2 linked regions of the Homo sapiens genome follow. The protein of the gene in region 1 interacts with the protein of each later gene in a pairwise test. Each region holds a gene or a part of one and is shown in the gene's direction. Other genes may lie near its edges.

The links.
Region 2: the proteins of TMEM132D (region 1) and NAMPT interact in a two-hybrid assay, tested with the Homo sapiens proteins (one large-scale study listed by BioGRID).

Annotation. Positions count from the first base shown.
Region 1 is NC_000012.12:129,075,026-129,078,525, reverse strand, and holds part of TMEM132D (transmembrane protein 132D precursor), read left to right. Parts: intron 1-3,450; exon of another isoform or gene 3,451-3,466; coding exon 3,467-3,500. UniProt on the Homo sapiens protein: Regulate neuronals morphology via inhibition of the WAVE regulatory complex (WCR), a complex that controls F-actin cytoskeletal dynamics.
Region 2 is NC_000007.14:106,264,484-106,267,983, reverse strand, and holds part of NAMPT (nicotinamide phosphoribosyltransferase precursor), read left to right. Parts: intron 1-2,812; coding exon of another isoform or gene 2,813-2,831; exon of another isoform or gene 2,832-3,500.

The DNA of each region.
Region 1 (3,500 bases):
GAGGGCTTGAGACACACTTCAGCAGGGTCCCTCACCAAGTGGATCACACACCAGGCAGGCACCACGCCAGGCGGGTCGCACAATAGAGTGGGATCATATATCGGGCGTTTGTTTCTCCATCTGCAAAGGGCTCTTCTGAAGCAGGTGACTCCTCTGCCTCATGTTTCCCAGCTCCCCCATGCAGAGATGAAAAAAATAAATACATATATACATAAGGATTGCAACATGTGAAAAATGAGAAGCCATTAAGGGGCAGGAGCCCTGGAGGAAAGGCCCACCCCTCATCCACCATAGTGCAAGTGCATGCAGGTGGTCACCTGTGCTCTCCACACGCTTCCTGCTTCCATGAGGGCATGAGGGCACGTGCAGGCTCAGAGCAGGTGCACAGCCTGATGCCAAGGTCCTGCTGGAGCGGAGGGTGACAGACCTGCTGAGTGGGGAGCCTGTGGCGGGAGATCGCTTCCAGACCATTCATTGTTCAGCTCAAGGCAGAAACAGAGAATTCATGGAGATGTCAGTCACAATTTTCTTTTACTTTATTTGGAACCAGTGTGAGCTAATAGAGTGTGTTTTGTGTGTTGTGTGCATATGTATATGTGTGTTGTGTGTCTATGTGTTGTGTACATATATGTTGTTTTTGTGTGTCTGTGTATGCATGTGTGTGTCTTGTGTCAGTATTTTGTGTTGCTTGTTTTGTGTTGTGTGTTGCATGTGTGCTTGTGTTGTATAGGCACCTGTATGCATGTATATATGTGTGTTGTGAATGTATCGTGTGTTGTATGTATGCATTGCATGTGTCTATTTGTTGTTTGTATGTGTGCATATGTGTGTGTGTTGTGGGTCTGTGTCATATATGTTTTTGCTTTATGTGTGTCCGTATGCATGTGTGTCTTGTGTATTTTCTGTTGTGTGTATGCTTGTGTTGTATAGGTGCCTGTGTGCATGTATATGTGTATGTGTGTTGTGTGTATGTGTGTGATGCATGTGTTTGTATGTGGATACAATGGCTTACAAAGGGGACTGTTATAGGGGACCTTTGAATGTAGTAAGTTCTCCCTCATTAGAGGTGGATAAACATTATTTCTTAGAACATAGGAATTTGGGTGAAGCTTGCTTAATAACAAAACATGGTGGTTGCAGGTCATTAGTTCTTTTGCCCCATGAAAAGGGATCATCCTCATGTGGGGCAGCTGGAATCCCTCCGGCCCATATGGGACATTGTTCTGACTGCTTCCCTTCTGGATCAGGAGCCTTTTCTGCGCACTCTTCCTCGGCAGGGTGAGGTACCAGGCCTTCCCTGCCTTCATGCACCAGCTGCGGCTGTGGCCATGTTCAGAGGAGGCAGGAGTGCCACACTGGACTTGCTAAGGGGCACAAAGAGCCTTCCCATTTTCCCAGCCTGCACCTGTCACATAATGCTCCCCTCTCAGGCATGAGCTAATCTCCTAGTCCTTATACTACAGTCTTTGTTTGCAGAGTTTTGGGTTAGAAAACACTTGAAAGTGGTTGATCCCAATAACAGAATCGAATTCTTGGCCAAAGCAAACCTCCTTTTCTCAAGGAAGGATGCCAGCCGAGAGGCAAGTTACAGATAGCAATGAAGAAATAACCTGAGGCTTTTCTCTGTCTTTGTGGGTGATAACATCAGCGGACCACCAGCTAGGCGTTAAGGAAGGGATAAGATGCAGCTAGAAGAAGGCCAGAAGGCTAATCCGTTCCTGACATGCAGAGCTAAACACGCTACCCTGAGATTTGCTCCATGGTTGGTTTGCAGGGCTCTTACTCCCTGCCTGCAACTTGGCTCTGACAGTGGTAGTTTCAAGAACTCCGTTGTGCGTTTGAATGCTCTGCTCAGATTTCATGGCCGATTGAGAGAACCTGGTAAGTCAGTGTCATGTCCAGTAGCTTTTGCACTGTGCCTTGGCAAGGTTATCCGCTTAGCAGGTAGTCCAAGCCAGTGTCTAACAGAATAAGTATTTCTTGGCTGAGCTGAAGGAAAGAGCAGAGGCCACCAGCCACATTTGAGGAGACTTTCTTCTTACTTCCAAAGACTAAACAACAACTGTGTAAAATTACTTCTGTCATGGTCAGGGGCCAGTAGGTCATAAGAGAAAAAAAAATCCACTCAAGCAAAAGCTTAAATAACAAAGGATGTGTTATGAGGATTATAGGGATCTCACAGAACCCAGCTGCAAGACCTTGGAGGAAAGGGAAGGTCAGCACTTTCATGCCCACTCTCTCTCTCACCTGTGTTTTTATTTTGGTCTAATTCATTATTGTCTTCCTATGGATAAATGCCATGCCCAAACATTTGCTTATACATAGTCCATCAGAGGGCTTCATTCCCCAATTTTATATGTGCCCCCACTACACATCTTCCCAAGCATAACTTTGTCAGTCTTGTCTTTCTGGTTTCAAGTTCGAGAGAGAGAGAGTAATGCTGGCTGGCTCAGCATTGCTGAGATTGATGGCTCTAATGGCAGCAGCTGTCTCATTTCAATCAGCTGTTGCTGTGGCCCAGCGGGCAGGGTCATGGGCCACCTAGTGCTGTTCATCATCTCGGGCTTGGGGCGGAGCAGGTTCTCTGAGAGGGAGGGAGGGAGGGAGGAAGCAATGGATCTGCCACTGCTGTCAAGCATAATGTCATCTTCACTAAAATTAAAGGCTGGCATGAAATTGGAGGTTATCTCCAATGATCTGCCTGGTCAAACTATTTGCAAAGAAAGTTGGTCTAAATCAACAAAGTGAAAACAAGCTCTGGCTGCTTTTTGGTCTTCCAGTTTCCTCCAGTTGGGTTGGGTGGAGGAAGAGATGAAGACTCTCCAATCAAGATGCTTCTCCCTCTCCTGCTGTCAGGCTTAACTCCTCCCTCCAAGCCAAGACTATGGCCTGAGGCCAGGACAGATCCACTCCTGCAGACCCAGAAAAGGCAGGGCTGGCAAAACCACAGCCTGCAGCCCTGCAGTGGGACCTCATCTAGATCAGAGGCTTTTATCTGTATTGCCAGTAATCAGTGGAGACTCAGTATTACAACTTAAAAATAATGTAATAAATATTTTTCATTTGAATGTGTAACACTTGTAAATGATTCCACTAACCAGTAATTTCCTTTGTCGTGCAATTTATTATTGTTCAGAAGTTGATTCTGAACAGCCCAAGGGCCCATCTTCCTTTTATAACAACACCTACAGGAGAAAAAAAAAAAAAGCAAATCTTCTTACGGATTGTTTAATACTGGCCCTGTTTTGTCATTTTGTTGTTGTTTTATTTTGCTTTTTTGCATCTTTGTGAGAATTCATTTTCTTTTATACTCTTGGTACTTCTTATCGCTTATTTCTACACTGTTTGAAAGGTTTGTCTTTGTTCTTGTAGCAATAGTTTTGCCGTTGTGTGTCTACTGTACTAAGACTTGGGGCTCAATGAGCTTTTTGGCCCATTTGATTAACTTACATATTTTTCTCCATAGGAAGCAGCCATCAGTTGCTGGGTCCAGTTCAGTG
Region 2 (3,500 bases), on another chromosome or scaffold:
TTGTCTGCTTTCAGTAAACTATCTCCAGTTACCCAAGAAAGAAATTACAATCTAAACTGCAGCTGCTCTGGTCCTAGAGCTAACTTTATTAAAAGTAAATCAGGTTGTTTTTTTTTTTTTTTTTTTTTTTTTTTTTTTTTTTTGAGACGGAGTCTCGCTCTGTCGCCCAGGCTGGAGTGCAGTGGCGGGATCTCGGCTCACTGCAAGCTCCGCCTCCCAGGTTCACGCCATTCTCCTGCCTCAGCCTCCCAAGTAGCTGGGACTACAGGCGCCCGCCACTACGCCCGGCTAATTTTTTGTATTTTTAGTAGAGACGGGGTTTCACCGTTTTAGTCAGGATGGTCTCGATCTCCTGACCTCGTGATCCGCCTGCCTCGGCCTCCCAAAGTGCTGGGATTACAGGCGTGAGCCACCGCGCCCGGCGTAAATCAGGTTTTTTAAATGTTTGCCAAACCTTATCACTGACTTTTATAACAAAATTATTTACTATAATCATTAGGGAATATTTAAGTTCTGCTAATACTTAAAATTGCAGAGTGCTAAAACCAGCAGTGAGTTTAGAATCAAGCTAAGCTTTATTGTTGCTACTATTTGAGGCATATTAGTTGACTGGTGTTCATATGCAAGGCAGTCTACTGGGTGCAACAAGGGTTAGAAGGATATTTTTAAAAAACTGACCCTATTCTCAGGATGAAAATAATACACTAGTAATAGTCTGCTCTGTTGGTTAACTCCTCGTAAGGAGGTACAATTAAAATGCTGTAGTGTTGCAAGGGAAGGAGAGGAAGAATCATATTCCTTCACTAGCAGGATCAAGAAAGCTTTTATAGAAATATACAAAATCTTCACTTCTTGAAGGATTGGTAAAATTTAATAGCCAACATTGGGCACTTATTCATTCTCTGAGTAAATATTTATTGCATGCTTATCTTGTATCAAGCATTGTGATGAAAGCACAAGAATGAAAGAGGAGGGAGAATGTTTAGAGAATAAGGGCTGAAACACAGATTTTGTAGGGAGCGTAGGGGAGACTGAGAAGACAGGTTCAGGTTAGTAAGGGCGCTCATATTTTGACACTGAATGTTAACTATGTGCACATCATGCTAGCTATTCTAAATCAGGCATTTTCAAATGGAAGCAGGCACTGACATTTTTGAGCAAAGACGTGATGTTATGAGATAAATATCTTAGGGGACTTTTTTATATTTTTATAGCAGGATATCTATCCTATGGATTGAAAAAAGGAAAAATCAGAAGGTAGTCTTTATAGGAAGCTATTCCAGCAGTCTTAAGGTAATGAAGTCCAGACCAAGGTGCTAAATAAATGGAAAGAAATAGGTAAACATGAGCAATGGCTTGGGAGATAAAATTGCTCAAAGTTGGTAATTTGAGTTGGGACTCAGTAGAAAATAGATTCAGCTGACGTTTATGAGCATTGTATTAGTAAGGCCTTGTTGAACACTTTTACATACAACTTTCAAGACTAGGAAACTGGGAAAATAAGAGTGTCTTTAACAAAGTTTTAAGAGTTATTTTTAGTTTGGCCTTAGATGTACATACATCTTTTAAAAATCTAACATAGTATGCACATATTAGACTCTTCGTTGATGGTTATTTCAAAGTAGTAACATCATGATACGGAGGACAAGGATAATATCTTCTTTAGGACTTGTTAAAATGAAAAGGATACTGTATGTGGGCAAGGGATAAAAATCCATTTTATTTTTATGGTCTCATATTGATTGCATTTGTAAAATTTGACTCCTTATATATTCAAATGCCTCACATGTTCTTAATAGAATGTCTTTTAAACAACAGCGTAGTATAGCAAAAAGAGGATTGGACTGAAAGTTGGGAAACCTGGGTGACCTTCCGGCTGACATAGTGGGTGGCCTTGGGCAAGTCACTTATCTCTCTGTTCTTCATTTCTTCCATCCAACCAAACAAAAGGAGGAGCTAAAGTTTTACATCTCCAACATGACAAGGTCATTGATGATAAATGAGCTACTATCTAAATAACTTTAAAATAAGAGAACTCTATAAATTTAGAGGTTTACCACTATTGTATGTATCTTAATAGATGAATCTGCACCTAAAAATATTTAATTACAGAAGCTTTTTTTCTCAAACTTTGGAAAGGTATCAAATTTAATTTGGTGCTTGAAATTAGGATTTATGGCATTGGTAGAATTCATTGATTATTTATGATCTTCATATATCACATACTGTACTAGAAGAATAGAGGTTATGATTGGACTAGACAGAGAGTGCCAGAGCAAGTATCTGTGGGATGCTGAGATGAAGATATTCAACTTTCTATCTAACAAAGTAGATCCAGAGCCTGGAAGAAAAACAGAGGCTAAGATACAGATACTGGAAACCCTCATGCAGGGACTTTTTTTTTTTTTTTTTTTTTAAGCTTTTGAGTGTTTCACACAAGGTATGTTACAGAAGACAAGTGCCTAAGTCAGAACTATGAGAAATATTGCCATCTGACAGGTTAGATTAAAGAAGGAGAGCACAGCATCTGGGAAGACTGAAAAGGGAACCATAGAAATAGGGGAAAAAAGGTGAAACATGGGAGATGTCATTGAAGTCAAGAGAAAGAAAGCATCAGGAAAATTCAGGTGTCATGGAGAAAGCAAGTAAGATGGGGACAGTGAAGTTTGCTAGACATGATACAAGTAGATCGTTAGGTGACTTACTGATACAACGTTATAAGTAGTGACCCCTTAACTGTAGGAGTTAATTCATACGTTGTAAAGTTCTCCAGTATTGGTATTCATTGATCTTAATTCTCTCCTTTTTAAAGAGAAAAGTTGCAGACCTGAATATGAAGAGGAGCTTCTCTTCAGTCATATCTTAATTTTCCATTTAGCCTACAGATGCATGAAGTAGAGAATTGACATCATAGCTACTGGCAGCCTCTGTAGCTGTTAAGAAGAGTGTTCACTAATGAGTTTTATATAAACAGGTTCTCTCTCAATTTTGGATTCGGGTAGTAGTCTTTACAATCTTGAAATGTGCATGCTGCACTACCCCAGGTATACCATTGACAGTATGGGGAAAGGTTCTAAGTCTAGTCCTTTAAAAAAAAAAACACACACACACATTGTATAAAGTGATTATTTCAGACATAAAGTCTGACTCTTCAAACAGTTATGAGTTAAACTTATACCTACTTGGGCTTTATAATAAATGAATGTGCTATCTTTTTATTATTTACTGAGGAGAACAGATTAGAGGCGGACTAGAAAATTAGGGAGAATGACCAATTGCTTGGCATAATTAAATGGTAATTTTCAAAATTAAGTTGTTTGAGATCTTTTAAAATTATTTACATTATATATTAACAAATATTTACACAGGTTGAGCATCCCAAATCCAAAATGCTCCAAAATCTGAAACTTTTTGCTCAAAGGAAATGCTCATTGGAGCATTTCAGATTTCAGAACTGGATTTCAGATTTCAGAACTGGGGATGCTTAACTGATAAGTATA